Linked DNA regions of Homo sapiens: region 2 is linked to region 1. Evidence: fine-mapped expression QTL. Tissue or cell type: whole blood. Region 1 holds a variant in brackets; the other region holds the start of a gene. All regions are shown on one strand. Distances are between the middles of the regions.

Region 1 (8,105 bases):
CTCAGCCCATTTTACAGATGAGAAAAGTTGAGGCTCAGAGAGATTAAGTCATTTGCCGGAGGTCATGGAGGAGCCAGTTATGAGCAGCAGGCCACACCGAACTCAGAGCCAGTCACTGGGCTAGTTGAAAGGATCCCAATGCAAGCAAAATGCAGACACTCTGAGACCAGGGAAGAGAAATTAAATTCAGTTTCATTTTGCTTTTTAGGGCAGAAGAAAGGGCTAGAAGAAGTAAAGCAGAGATGAGAAGGATGTAAGAGGAATTTGATCATCTAAAAATTGGGGCACACTTTATAATTCTGTCTTTAAAAAACGATTCGGGGCTGGTTGCGGTGGCTCACACTTGTAATCCCAGCACTTTGGGAGGCTGAGGTGGGAGGATCACCTGAGCCCAAGAGTTTGAGACCAGAGTGGGCAACATAGCAAGACCCCTATCTCTACAAAACAAATTTAAAAGTTAGCCAGGTACGGTGGCACGCACCTGTAGTCCCATCTACTCGGGAGGCTGAGGTGGGAGGATAGCTTGAGCCCAGTAGTTTGAGGCTGCAGTGAGCTATGATCTCACCACTGCACTCCAGCATGGACAACAGAGTGAGACCTTGTCTCAGAAAAAAAAAAAACAACAAAACAAACAAACAAAAAACAGATTTGGGGTGTGTGCCCCAAGTTGCTGGAGAAAAAGAGGACCAGGTTGACCCTAACCCTCTGGAGGCTTCAAAATGTCTCCCTGTGTGTTGGATGGTGTCACTTGAGGTCAGTTTCCAGGAAAGATAGCAAGGTGTACTATAAGAAACCACCTTGATATGTGGGGGCTTAAGACAAGCCTTTGTTATTGCTCTCAAGTCTATTTCTCAAATTAGGCATGTCCACTGATCTGGGTCCAGCGGAGCTGACCTCCACTGGGCTCACTCAGACATCTAACATCAGTGACAGGTTGTCTGGGGCTGTCTAGTCTTCGATGGCCTCACTTACACATCTGGAGGCCAGCAGGCTGTTGGCTGGGGTGATGGTGGAGTTTCAGCCTTGTGTCTCTCACCATCCAGCAGGCTAGCTCAGGCTTGTTCACATGGCAGCAGTGCAGTTCCAAGGGAGGGAGCAGAAACATGCAAGGACAGATGCAGTCGGCCACACACTCAATCAGCTGCGTATTATCCATGGGGGTGCCAGCAATGATTCAAGAGGTGGGAAAATAGGTGCCACCTCTTGATAAGGTCATGCTGCAAGGAGTGGGACATTGTGGCCATTTTTGAAAAAAAATTTACAGATTGGTTTATGGAAGCAGAAATATAAAACAATAGGGACAAACAATAGATAAATAATGAGGGTAGAGGAGAGGAGGTGGGGGGAGGAAGATTTTTTTTTAGTGCCAAAACACTAGTTTATTTATTGATTGATTCTTTTAACAAATACTTAGTGAGCATCTACTGTGGACCAGGTGCTATGCTGGCCCTGAAGGTATAACAGGAGGTAGACCTAGAACCTGCCCTCCTGGGTCTTACAGTTTAGAGCAGGAGACAGAAAAGGAAACCTACCCTACAATTCACCATGGCAAGTGCTATGTTAGGGGAAGTGCGGACAACTTTGGGGACTCACAGTAGGAATACCTAACCGGTCTCAGATGACAGAAGGAACCAGGGAAGGCTTTAGTCATAAACTCTGAAGCAAAATCCATGGTATGAACCATGCCAAAGAGGAGCTGGAGAAGAGAGAAAAGCAACTGAGAAAATGGAATCCCAGAGACAAGGGAGAGTACAGCTTGTATGGCTGGAGTAAAAAGCTGGAAGATGAGAGTTGAGAGAAGCAGATAGAGACTTATGCAAGAGAAGCAAAGGAGGCCGGGCACGGTGGTTCATGCCTGTAATCCCAGCACTTTGAGAGGCCAAGGTGGGTAGATCACTTGAGCTCAGGAGTTCGAGACCAGCCTGGCCAACATGGTGAAACCCCGTCTCTACTAAAAATATGAAAATTAGTCAGGCGTGGTAGCGCATGACTGTAATTCCAGCTACTTGGGAGGCTGAGGCACGAGAATTGCTTGAACCCAGGAGGAGAAAGTTGCAGTGAGCCAAGATCGCACCACTGCACTCCAGCCTGGGCAACAGAGAGAGATTCTGTCTCAAAAACAAGAAAGAAAGAGAGAGAAGTGAAGGAGTTAACACTTCACAAGGAAAGATTTTTTTTTTTTTGAGACGGAGTCTCGCTCTGTCACCCAGGCTGGAGCGCAGTGGCATGCGACCTCAGCTCACTGCAAGCTCCGCCTCCCGGGTTCATGCCATTCTCCTGCTTCAGCCTCCCAAGTAGCTGGGACTACAGGCGCCCATCGCCACGCCCAGCTAATTTTTTGTATTTTTAGTAGAGACGGGGTTTCACCACGTTAGCCAGGATGGTCTTGATCTCCTGACCTCATGATCCACCCGCCTCAGCCTCCCAAAGTGCTGGGATTACAGGCGTGAGGAAAGATTTTTAACTTGCCAGATTAGATTGGCATGTTACAAAGACCACTTGCTCATCTTGGTATGGAAGGTGGACATTTTGGGGAGAAGATTTTTGTAGGAATGGGGAAGATGAGATTTAGGAAATACTGAGCAATCCAAGCATAAAATGATGGCTGAACTAAAAGGAGACTATAGGAATACAGAGTGGTGAACACACTGGAGAGATCCTTAGAAGGAAAATGCTCCAGGATTGTGTAGGAGAGGGCAGACTTTCCCTCTACCCTATGAGGCACTTGATAATTGCATCTATGAAATCAGCTGATAGTAGGCAGATGAACAGGTGATATAGTTTGGATGTGTCCCAGTCCAAATCTCATGTCGAATTGTAATCTCCAATGTTGGAGGTGGGGCCTTGTTGGAAGTAAATGCTCGGTGCTGCCAAGTGAAAATAGCACTCAGGCAAAAGTTCTCTCAGCAAGGCAATTTACTTCTATAGAAGGGTGCGTCTCACAGATGGAGCAATGGCGAGAGCACACCGGACGATGGAGGGGAAGGGGTTCTTATTCCTGACACAGGTAGCCCCTACTGTTGTGTCTTTCCCCTATTGGCTAGGGTTGGACAGCACAGTCTAAGCTAATTCTGATTGGCTATTTTAAAGAGAGCAAGGGTATGAGCCAGAGTGGTGGGGTGAGTAGTTTTGGCGGGAGGGACAGTTACAGAGCAGGTGACTAAGGATTACTAAGGACAGAACAGGCGACTAAGGATGCCTAAGGACAGAACAGGTGATAGAGGCTAGGAGGGGGTTGTTTACTGAAACTACGGGCAAGGAAGGTAAAGAATGAGGAAGTTAGCTTTAAAATGGAGAACAAAGAACAGGGAAGCTGAACGTACTGACATATTGGTTCTTTGAAGAAGAACTCAGAACTTATTGTACTTAACAATTTTTCTCCCTCTTGAATTTTAAAGGAAGTTAACAGGCTAAACTTGGAAGAGGAATTTACTATATCCTACAGCCTGGTAGGAGGTGATTGGATCATAAGGGCAGATTTCTCATGAATGGTTTAGTACCATCCCCCTGGTACTGTCCTCAAGATAGAGATGGTGAGTGAATTCACAAGCAATCTGGTTGTTTAAAAGTGTGTAGCACCTCCTGCCTCTCTCTCTTGCTCCTGTTTTCGCCATGTGACCTGCTGACTCCCTTTTGCCTTCTGCCATGATTGTAAGTTTCCCGAGGCCACCCCAGAAGCCAAGCAGACATCAGCATAATGCTTCCTGTACAGTTGAAGAGCCATGAGCCAATTAAACCTCTTTTCTTTATAAATTACCCAGTCTCAGGGTTTTTTTGTTGTTTTGTTTTGTTTTTGTGGCAGGGTCTCACTCTGTTGCCCAGGCTAGAATTCAGTGGCGCAATCTCTGCTCACTGCAACCTCTGCCTCCTGGGTTCAATCAATTCTCATATCTCAGTCTCTTAAGTAGTTGGGATGACAAACATGCACCACCATGCCCGGCTAATTTTTGTGTTTTTAGTACAGATGGGATTTCACCATGTTGGCCAGGCTGCTTCAGGTATTTCTTTATAGCAATGGGAGAATGGACTAATACTAAAGAAGAAAAGGTGAACACATTGATTACATGCACAGAGGCATTACATGAAAGAAAAGTGAATACCCCCAAATCCAGTAAGATCTAGAAGTTTAGATCCTGTCTTCATGTATGACAGGGGAGGGGGTTTTGGCAACTTAAGGGAAAATGGATGATTTGGGGGAAAGATAAATGGGCCCTCAGAAGAATACACAACAACCTGTGACAAAGTCTGTCTTGGCATGGCATCGACCTCCTGTCCCCTCTCCTGTGATAGGAGCCAATCTTCCCTGGTTGATGAGAGTCCAGGGAGGGGATTCATGACCACTGAGTTTCTTTTGGGGAGTCCACTTTAGGCAGATAAAGGGAACCCAGAGAAAGCTCTGCCTGTATTGCTATTCCCTGAATGCCCTCAGGCCAAAGCAATCAGAATACCAAACCAGCATGTTTTGGGGTGACATTTCCTGAATGCCTTCATCTGGTAATAACTGCAAGACAGCAGAAAATTCTAGAATGTTGTCTGGAATTTCTAGCTTCAGTGAGATGGATAGATGGTGGTACTATTCAGCAAGATAGAAAACCTTGGTTAAGGATAGTTGCCTTCATTGAGCACAAAATTTGATTCTAAGCTTCCCAGCAGCAAAGGCAAAAGGAAAACAAGATAAATGACCTCATCTCAAGGTTCCCTAACACGA[A/G]CCACACCAGTGCACTATAGAAACCAAACTTCCTCATAAGGTACACAAGGGGAATTGACTGAGGGGATCTCTGTAGAAAGGAGTGTGAACCAAATAAAAGAAAAGGCCTTTGGCAGTAGTTCTATAAAAGATGCAGAAATGTTCTTTGCAGGCCTGTTCGGTATATCAGCATCGACCCCTGATAAAAGCTGAGAGCAAGATATTAAATCACAGCTCTGTAGAGTAATTTGTTCAAAAAAAGTCAGTGGAATGGCCTCTGGGTACCTAACTTGCTAAAGAGTTTTGAGCTCCCAGCATCTAGAGAATTGAGAGATTGGACAAATGAAAGGCACTTGCACTAATTAATACATTTTATAAACTTGAAATTAGGAGTTCAAGACCTACATGTGTAACTTAGTGCCCCAGGATAATTTTAAAGGGAAAAATATGAAAGTCCCAATTCCAGCAAATACCATTAACAACATAATCAAATAACTTAGGGCTTCATTTTTAAAATGTTGAAGCAATTAGAATCCATTGTGGCCTGGGCGCGGTGGCTCACGCCTGTAATCCTGGCACTTTGGGAGGCCAAGGCAGACAGATCACTTGAGGTCAGGAGTTCAAAACCAACCTGGCCAACATGGTGAAATCCCATCTCTACTAAAAATACAAAAATTAGCCAGGCATGGTGGCATGCGTCTGTAATCCCAGCCAGCTACTTGAGAGGCTTAGGCAGGAGAATCGCTTGAACCCGGGGGGCGGAGGTTGCAGTGAGCTCAGATAGAGCCACTGCACTTCAGTCTGAGCAATAGAGCAAGACTCCGTCTCAAAAAAAAAAAAAAAAAAAAAAGAATCCATTGTGGGTTTTTTTTTTAATTAAATTTTTTCCTGATTACTAAGGTAATTCAGGTTTATTATAGAAATTAGGAAATTTCGGAGAAGTAGAAAGAAAAAAGTCATCTCTAATCCCAGCAAAGATATCTAACTGCTGTTAATATTGTGAGATATATATAAATATATATATATACACACACATACATATATGTCTTTCCAATCATTTTTCTAGGCCTACATATAAGTAAATATTTTTCTCTTAAAAGAATTAGGATAAGGCTGGATCAACTGTTTTACATCCTGCTTTTTTTCACTACATTTGCTAATGACAAATAGAAGCCTTTGTTTTAAAGGAATTTAATGTTCCAATGACTTCTCTCAATTTCTCAAAATCTGTGTTTTTGTCACTCGTGTGGACTTTGGTGTAGTAACTCTGCTTGTCCTACTAGCTTTCTGAAAAACAGAAGAGAGGCTGGTGAACTTGACTTTTTCTTGCCAAGGACTTAATTGTGTCATTTATAATAGAGATCTTGGGGCCTGGCATTTTAGCACACTGAGAAAGAAATATGCTAATGTGTTGTCCTTCACAGAGAGCACAAGAATAATTAGCCACCCCAGGGCCACTCCTAAACAGGTTGTTGAAGCCTTGTTGCCTCCCTTCCTGGGGAACTTTCCAGAGGGAAATTCTTCCCTAGTAACTATTCTACTGGCATGCAACTTCAATGCTTCCTTTCTCTTCCCTGCAATGTCATTGTGGTAGATTGTAAAAAGGGACACAATACTACTTCTCTCATCAGAGATTAAGTTTATTTTCTAAGCCCTTGAATCAGGGCTGACCTTGTGATTTTTGTTGATCCGTAGAAGTGGCGGATGTGACAACGTGTCAGTTCGAAGCCTAGGACTTAAGAGGTCTCACTATTCTTGTTGCTCCTTTCCACCAACATGCAAACAAGCCTGGGCTAGCCTGTTGGGTGAAAAAAAAAAAACACTTGGAGAGAGGCCCCATTCATTCCAGCCAAGACCATTATAAACCAGCAGCCCCAGTGACCATGGGGGAGCCCAGTGGAAACTAGCTAAACCCAGACCAGACCAGAAGAACTGAAACTGATGACTTACTAAACTGAGAGCTAAATAAATGGTAGTTGTTTTGCGTTAGTAAGCTTTAGGGTAGTTGATTACACAGGAAAGGCTGGCTGATAGAATCACCTGGGGCGGGGGCAGAGGTTGCTTTATTCTGTTTACGATAAAGTATTAATGTAAAAGCATTAATTGCGTAGCACCAGGTATGTAATAAGCATTCAACAAATGGCATTAGTATCAAATGAGATGAGGGTATTGGCAGGGCTGGTACCTTCTGGAGGCTTCTGGAGAGAATCCATTTCCCTGCCTTTCACAGCTTCCAAAGGCTGCCTGCATTCCTTGGCTTATGGACACTGGATAAGACACAAAGACACAAAGGCAAAAACTATATCTATTTTGATTATGGGCACTAGTAGGTGGTCCCTAAATGATACTAATGCCATTTGTTGAATGCTTATTCCATACCTGGTGCTATGCAATTAATGCTTTTACATTAGTTGTTACTTTATCATAAACAGAATAAAGCAACCTCTGCCCCCGCCCCAAAAAGATGTGCACATTTCAATACCCAGAACCTGTGAATATGTTTTCTTACATAGCAAAGGGAATTTTGAAGATGTGATTGAGTTAAGGCTCTTTAAATGGAGAGATTATTCTGGATTATCCAGGTGAGACCAATGTAATCACAAGGCTCCTTATAACAGGGAGGCAGGAGGATCAAAGACGAAGAAAGGAGATGTGACTATGGAAACAGGATGAAGTGATGTGCTGTGAAGATGGAGGAAGGGGCCACAAGCCAAGGAATGCAGGCAGCCTTTGGAAGCTATGAAAGGCAGGGAAATGGATTCTCCTCAGAAGCCTCCAGAAGGTACCAGCCCTGCCAATACACTGATCTCATACTTCAGACCTCTAGGACTATAAGAGAATAAATTTGTGTTGTGTTAAGCCACAAAATTTGTTACAGCAGGAATAGTAAGCTAATACAGATTTAATTCCCATGAAACTTTATAAAGTACACACTACTGTCATCATTTCCATTTTACTTATGAGGAAACTGAGCCTCAGACCAGCTAAGTAACTTTCCCAGCAGTTAAGTGGCAGCACTATGTCAAAACTGGCCTCCTAAACCTTACACTCTAGAGCCTCCCACTGGGTCAGAGAAAGACCACAGGATTTGGAGTCCAGACGGGAAGCACCTCTATAAAAAAATTGAAATGAGGAGTTGGATCAGATGACTTCAAACGATCCCTTCCTGTCCTAATTTTCTGTGACTTCTAAACACTGAATCCGCATCTTTCAGTGCCAGGTTCCCAAACTTGCAAGAGGAGCAGGTAGGACTCAGAGGGGCTCAGTCACATCTGAAGAAGGAGTCAAAAGAAATCTCCAGAAATGGAGTGTGGACCATACCAAACCAGGACCTTTAAAAAAGGTAACAGGGGGCTGGGCGCGATGGCTCACGCCTGTAATCCCAGCACTTTGGGAGCCCAAGGCGGGCGGATCACGA
Region 2 (8,105 bases), 110 kb before region 1:
GGAAGGTGGAAAATACAAAGAAAAAAAAAACACACACAGTTGGGTACATTCATGCATTTGTAGTTTTTTTCTTCTACTTTTAAAAGCCGGTATCCTCTTTCTTGAGACTGGCAAAGCAGGATGGGAAATACTACTTTACCACTTAAGAAAGGGATAGTGTTTCTCCCCCAGCCACTTGCCACCTTACACACACATTCTAACATGCACTTTTATTTTCTACCTTGAAAGGCTCAGGGTACATCAGCATGGTAGGGAAGCAACCTGTTGCCCATGACTTCTCCATTCTGTTCTGTTAGACTTACAGAACGGATATAACGAAACCATTTGACATGATGGAAATGTTCTAAAACTGGGTTGCCGTGATGGCTGCACAACTCTTTAAAATGACTAGAAATCACTGATTTGCAGACTTACAATGGGTGTTATAAGTAAATTATCACTCACTCCTGCAAGGCAGAAAGATCACTTGAGGTTAGGAGTTCAAGACCAGCCTGGTCAACAGGGCGAAACCTTGTCTCTACAAAAATTACAAAACTTTGCCGGATGTGATGGTGCACACCCGTAGTCCCAGCTACTCAGGAGGTTCAGGTGGAAGAATCGCTTGAGCCACGGAGGTTGAGGCTGTAGTGAGCCATGAGCATGCCACTGCACTCCAGCCTGGGTGACAGAGAAAGACCCTGTCTCCAAACAAAAGGATATATATATAACCAGAAAAGGCACAAAGAGTGGACAGTCTAGTTAGAAAAACAAGTTTATCAAAAAACCAAAGACACCCAACACATACTGATAATACATCTAAAATATAGATCTCTCCTGCTGCCCCTGAACCTCCACACAGCCTAGGCCACCTTCTTCCCTTAACAGATTCCTTAAGACCATCTCACCTTTCATTCTGCTCTATTGCTGCTCCAAAAAGAAAAAAAAGACCTCATTCTCAATCACCTTAACAATTCCACCTGCAGAACTAAAAATATCTGACGTACATGGTAATAGTGAAAAGGTGACAGGTGATTTTTTAATTCTCCTTGTCCAAAAGAAGTGGAGAAGAAGGAATCCTTCTAACTGATTCCCTAAGCCAGACCCCTGCTTCCGTACAGCCTTTATAATTGGAATTATGGTCATTCCCATACACGGCTTATCAACATTTTAACACTCCCCTCTCCTCTCTCCAATCCCTTCAGCAGCATCTTTCATATCCTACGAATTTAATAAGTGTTCTTCAGACGAATGGCAGTATTTTCCCAATCACATCAGCAATATCAATTCTACCCTCAAAGGGCAAATATAGTTCTCTATCATACTGGCCTACCACTAAGTCATAGGTGGTTTCCTTGGTTGACTGGTAGATGAAGGTGACAGTGATGAGAATGATCAAAAACTGCAAAATAACCACCGGCTAGCCAACTAGCTAGAATTGTTAAAATACATAACACCAGCTCAGAGCAATAAAATACAATTTCTGTGCCACGAAACAAATTATTCTAAAAATCACAAATATTGCCTATTACCCAGCATCCAAAACACAAGTTTTCTACTGCCATCAATCTATACCAAGTCTGATTAAAACTACACAAGATAGAAAATGTCAAGTTCATACTCAAACTTTTGAGGTACAAAAAAAATACAAGAGGGCCAAGAAAAAAACATGGCAGTAACCAGTATCACAAAGGGATTAACCAACAGTTAACACACAAGACAGGATAGGATGAAAACCTGTCAAACTCACTTCTCCACATAAAACCTGTTCATAATGTAGGAAAACCAAAACGTTATTTGCATTCCAACCAACGATGACTTCTGAATAGATCTAAAACACCAAAATATTGACAATAACCAAAATGAAACCAACTGTGGCCAGCTAAGAGTGTCATGAATGCACACAGTTTTCAGTCCTCACACCTGTTAAATCTGTATTCAAATTCTATTAAATGACATCAGAAAATTACTCGAAGACCCTTAAAGTAGACGCCTTTCCCTGTTCCTGAATAGACTCTAAAATATTTTCACTGTAAATAATTCAGTAGTTTTAACTAAGTTTCAACAGTCATCTGCGGCTCTGAAAAAACTTTAAACATACATACATACCTTTTTTAAAAGTCAACACCTTCCATGTGCTTCCGAAAAATTGATGAGTAAGGTTTTTTAAAATACATGTTAAAAGCTGAAATGCACTTCATTATGAGATAATCATTCCCAGCGATAAATCAGACATAAACTTTTGAATTTGGTTTACGTTTCTCTTCACCAGTAATGTTCTCAAGTTCTTAGGAGTTTCCTAATCATTTACTTGAACACCATCTACGGTAACACTCAAAGCAAAACCACAATAAAGAGGTTTGGCCTCTGAGGGCTTCTACATGTAAAAAACATTACTCATAAATAATATACAATCACTACTGCTTTAAATAACAAATACATTTCTAAAAACTTTCATGCCATTTGATGGAATTCCCTATTTTAGACAGCAAAACAAAATCTATGAAACTACTGATGCGTGTTTTTTACTTTAGATATATTCCATGATAATACAAAACACCGACAAAAATTTCTTAAAACAACGTATGGAGTAATATTTTTAGTTTTTGATTATTTTTATTCAAAGGTATCATCATTTAAAGAGTGCAATTCACAGAAACAATAATTAGGCCAATTAATCTCAGAGTTAGATTATTTTAGGTTGCCCAATAATCCTATTTAATCCCAAGTATAAATAAACCAATGAAACCTTAACATGACATATTCATCTAATCAAAGAACAATATCCAGTTGGAACTGTGAAGTACTACTACACAGTCACACTGAAATGTCACCAATTCAAAAATAAGTACCTGATAAAATGAGACTTTTGGCAATCAACTGTAATGTTCTAAAGGATCCACCAAAAACTCATTCTTGTCTCACACACACACCCAATGCCTGTTCATTAAATGACACCAAGAACAGTTTAACTTCAAACTCTAACGCCAATGAAACAAATTCAGACATAAATTAAAAGATGACCAAAAGACTACATGAGTCTTGACATTTTATCCAAGTATTTATGAATGTTAAATCTAAAGTAGTTAACTCGTTTTAACATCACATGCAGTTTACGACCTTCATCAAAATGAAAAGGAATTCTTTCAACATTCTTTTCATCATCACAGAGCTTTAAACACAAACTTCCACAGTCACTGCTCATTTCACCATTTTACAAAATCGTCCCCCATCACCACCCCACATAAGCTAGTCAAAGAAAAAAAAAACTGACAGCTCAGTCTCCCACAAAATGCACTTACTTTATCAAATACCGACATTTATTTTCAAGTGCAAGAAAGTAACAGACATTTGCAGCTCAAGACAGGAAAAGCACAGCCAGCCTTACTACCCCCACTAAATTTCTCAGACAAGAGAAAAGTAACTCGGGACAGGCAAATTAAAACCATTCTACACATGGCAAAAATATAAAACATCTATGTCCTACAATCCATAGCGATAGTACTGCTTCCTCTCTTCCCCAGCCAATACCAATAAGCCAATAGACACAAGTGTCAAATAAATCCAGTGTCCGTTTGAAATAAAATGAAAACCTGGAAAAATTCCCTCCCATAAATCATTTAGCGAACACAAGGCTTTTCACCCAACACTTAATACACTCAACCCAAAAACACACACAACCCACCCGCAAATACAAAAAAAGCCGTAATCAACAAGTTGGAAAAAGGGCAGAAAGTAAGGCTCACTACCCTCTCACTTAAAAAAAAAAAAAAAAAGTCCTTTAACAAAAGGTAACACAGATCTTCAAGTACCTGGTGGAGGTGCCTTTCCTCACATCGCAGATGCTGCATTTAAAGGCTTCAGCACTGTTTCTGAAGGTGCAGACGCTACAATCCCAAAACCCTTCGTCTGCGGCAGGTTTCGCTTGTCTTTTTGGCCTTCCGAGGAGTGGAGAGTGGGGGAAAAGGGAGGGAAGAGGCAGGGAGCAGGAAAACGGGGGAGAGACAGCAAAACACAGACGCGGGTGAGCCGTCGTAATTTCGCAGGAATCCAGTGCTGGAAACTTCGCTCGGGAGACCACCCACCCACCCTTTCCGGGGACTGGAAGAGAGAGCGAGGAAGGGAACCGGGCGCCCCCACTGGCACCCTGCAAGCCCCGGGCCCGGGCCGGATAGCCTCGCACACCAGGCGGTGGCGGCGGCGCCCCGGGAAGGGCCGCGGCGGGCGCAGGAAGCGGGCGGACTTGTGGACTTGAGCGTGGGGCTGGGGGGGCCGGGAGGGGAGCCGCGGGCCGGATCTGGAGGGGGCGCGCAGGGGCAGCCCGAGGCCGGCGACGGGGAGTGGGCCGGCTCCTTCCCTCTCCACTCCCAAGCTCGCGCCCTCCCTCCCTCCCCACCTGGTTAAATCCATCACAGTCTCCGGACGAGACTAGTCCCCGCCAGCGCCGCCTCCGCCGAGTGACTGACGAGGGGCGGGGCCTGGCGCCGCGCGTCACGCGCCGTGCGGCCAATGGGAGGGCGGCGGCCGGCGCCGCGAGGGCGGAGGCGGGGCGCGGGGGAAGGCGGGGCGTGGCGGACGTGGGCCGGGCGGTCGGTGTGCGTGCCCGGGAGTGTGTGCGCGCTGGGGGCGCGCGTGCCTGTCGGTGGCCCCGCGGCCCGGCGCGGCGGAGCGTGCAAGCCCGGCGGGGCGCACGTGGCCGCGCCCGGGAGCTGGCAACTGGCTTCGGGCCCCGCACGGCGCCCCGTGAGGCTGTTGCCGGGACCCCGGCCCCGAAGCCGCCCCGGGGAAGTAGTTCCACGCAGTTTGCGCGCGCCGCGGGAGCTTGCAACAGCCTCACCGCTCGCAGCGCCTCGAGGCTTGCAGTGCCCAGGGGCCGACAAGGTCCACCTTTGGACCGCGTTCCCCCGCGCCCCTCTGTTCCTCTGCCATGCGGAGCTTTGTATTTGCCTCTTCTGAAGTCCCTGCGTCCGGCCGAGACGCTGGCCCGAAGCCCCACTCCCTGTCAGGCCCCTGTCGCGGGAGGGAACAGTAGAGAAAGGGCGTGGCATAACTAAATGCCCCCAGGCCAGACTCTGAGCTTCTGCTGGCGGACTCCTCCTGGGATCCTCCTCTCCCCTAGAGTCTAAATAGGGCGTTTCCTTAGGGAAGTTGCTATTCAAATTCTGGCGACCACATGCCCGCATTAAAACCTCGTGCCTCAGCTCCTTCATCTCCAAAATGGGGCTCATCCTCCCAGGGTTGTTTTGAATATTCGGAGAAATCAGGCATGGAAGGTTCGCTGATGGATGCCTGGTATTCACGAAGGACCAAAACAAGATATTGGGTATTAGGAGCTATTATAACTGGGCCTGAATTGTGCACCATTTCCCCCGCGTTCGATTTTTGAAGTCGAGGAACAGGGTAGTGCCCTTCACTTTCTGCCCTGCTCCAAAAACGCTTGCCAAATTGACTTGAACGTGACTCAGGACCCTCTGTCCTCAGGCAGGGAGATCTGGTAGGAGGACGACCCCAGATGATAAAAGACACAGACGCGGCTGTGCTGAAGCCCCAGGTTAGGGGAGGGACGGAGTCTTAGAATGCTGCTAGGAGTTGGGGCCCGGGGGTGGGGGGATTGGAGTTAAGACAGACCCTCAGCCAGGTTTATATGCAAATATAAAATAGGTTGTTATCAGGACTGCCCCATGGAAGGGAAGCATATCAGGGCTTGCCACCAGGGAAGCTCACTGAGACTGAGCACCCAGGGAGCAGAAATTCCTAGAGATCAGTCCAGGGATCAGAAGGGAGAGAATAAAAGAGAGAATGAATGTGTCAACAATAAGTTTGATCAGCACGCAGTGTCCTCTCCAGGCAGGCGCACCCAGGAGGGCCAGGAGAAGCAACACTGTTTAGCAAGGGTCAGCAACCTCTCAAGGCCTCAATGCCACAGCTGCCTCCTTAGGGGAGGGATGAAAGAAGGAAGAGGAAGAGAGAGGGATAGCGTTCTAGGGGTAAAAGGGCCGTAGAAAGCCAAAGGGTACGTACACAAGCCATGGCCCAGTGCAGCTGCGCCATGGAGCAGCCTTGGCCTCTGGTGTCTCCCTGGCATGCTCCCAGGACTCTGCCCCTGGCATGAAGGTCGTGACAGAAACGGGGCACTAAGAAATCCTCACTGGAAGAGTGGCCTCCGGGGAGGTAGCTGGGAGCCATAGTAGTGGAAAGGAGACTTTGTTATTATTCTATACATAGAATAAAATACACAAATTTTCACACTGCAGCTTAGTGCATACATCTACACCCCTCTTTCCACCATTAGAACAATAAAACATTTTATCCTCCCAATGAGTCATCCCTCACTTAGGTAACCACAATTCCGACTTCTGTCACCAAAGATTAGTTTTGCCTGTTCTTTAAGGTCATATGCAGGGGTCATATGGTCTGTACTCTTGTGTCTGGCTGGCACCTTTCGCTCAGCATATTTGTGATATCCATCCACGTTGTTGCCTACATCAATAGTTCATTTTTGTTTGCTTAAGTGTGTAGAATTCCATTGCAAATACACTGTAATTTATCCATAGGAGGTTGACTGTTTTAGTATGTCGTTTTGTATCTTTGTCTTGTGTTATCTTTTCAAAAAAGAAAAAGTTTTTAAAAATGTGTTTAAGAAGGGCCAGGCACGGTGGCTCACACCTGTAATCCCAGCAGTTTGGGAGGCCGAGTGGGTGGATCACCTGAGGTCAGGAGTTCGAGACCAGCCTGGCCAACATGGTGAAACCCTGTCTCTACTAAAAATAAAAAAAAAATAGCCGGGCGTGGTGATGGGCGCCTGTAATCCCAGCTACTCGGTAGGCTGAGGCAGGAGAATTGTTGGAACCAGGGAGACGGAGGTTGCAGTGAGCCAAGATTGCACCATTGCACTCCAGCCTGGGCGACAGAGCAGGACTCCGTCTAAAAAAAAAAAAACCAAAAAATCAAAAAAATGTGTTTAAGAAAAACAATTTCAGAGTAGAGAACTATCTCTAGGAACTTATCAGACCCAAGGATCACCATGTGGTTGTAACTTTAGAGGCTCTAATTTCATTCAGATGTTGGAGGCAAATATCTATTGAAAGTCTCCTTGTAGTTGTATGAGTCAAATGGGACTATTTCTGGTACAGTGTGCTCCAGAGTGCTGTGGCTCTAGGCAGAGCGTACTGTGATTCTGGAGTGGGGTTTAGAGGCTGAGCTGGGTGGGGAACTAATTTTCCTCTAAGATGTCATCTTGGACCAGTATGGGGTGAGAGTAACAGTGAGAGTTGCCAGCCAGTCCCTGCTCCTCTGTTTCCTCCCTTGAACCTCCATTTCATATTTCATTTGACAAAAGGGTTCTACTGCTTTAAAAATTATTTGATTGAGAGGCCGAGGCAAATGTTTCACTTGAGGCCAAGAGTTTGAGACCAGCCTGGCCAACATGGTGAAGCCCTGTCTCTACTAAAAATACAAAAATTAGCCGGGCATGGTGGTGCACTCCTGTAGTCTCAGCTACTTGGGAGGCTGAGGTGTGAAGATCACTTGAGCACAGTAGGCGGAGGTTGTAGTGAGATGAGATCACACCACTGCACTCCCGCCTGGGCAACAGAGTGAGACTCTGCTTCAAAGAGAAAAAAAAAATTGTTTGAAACCCGTGGTTTTAGTGTAGATGCTGGTTAGAAGCACTGGCCAAGAAATGTCCAGTATAAATGTTTCCACAGATACATAAGACACATTCGAAGTCTACATTTTGACTTCCTTCCCCTCATTCGCTTCACTCACACCGGCTTCCTGGCTGTTCCTAAAACAGTTCCCTACCTTCAGGGCCTCAGAGCCTTCACACTTACTGCTTCCTTGGCTTGGAATGCTCTTTGCGCAGATACCCACATTCATTGTCAGCTGCCTCAATTCCTTCAGGTCTTTACGCAAAAGTCAATTCCTCACTGAGATTTTCCCTGGTCACGCAATCTACATCTGCATGTGTTTTGTTTCTTTTCCTTTCCTTTTCTTTTTTTTTTTTTTTTTTTTTTTGGAGACAGAGTCTTGCTCTGTTACCCAGGCTGGAGTGCAGTGGCAGGATCACAGCACGGCTCACTATAGCCTCAACCTCCTGAACTCAGACAATCCTTCCACCTCAGCCTCCT

The links. PIP is the estimated chance that this variant, and not a neighbour inherited with it, causes the effect.
Region 2: it holds the start of RYBP, and the variant in region 1 is fine-mapped to the expression of RYBP in whole blood (TOPMed, PIP above 0.99).

What each region holds. Positions count from the first base shown.
Region 1 is chr3:72,554,865-72,562,969 of GRCh38, forward strand. LOC124909394 (a long non-coding RNA gene) reads right to left here and starts at 6,955. Exons shown (of 2, transcript XR_007095960.1): 1 at 6,873-6,955; 2 at 6,310-6,485. RefSeq lists a silencer at 407-597. The variant A/G (reference allele first, on the strand shown) is at 4,709.
Region 2 is chr3:72,442,708-72,450,812 of GRCh38, forward strand. It overlaps RYBP (RING1 and YY1 binding protein), which reads right to left and starts at 3,916. Exons shown (of 4, transcript NM_012234.7): 1 at 3,789-3,916. The coding sequence starts at 3,916. RefSeq lists silencers at 4,233-4,292, 4,353-4,762.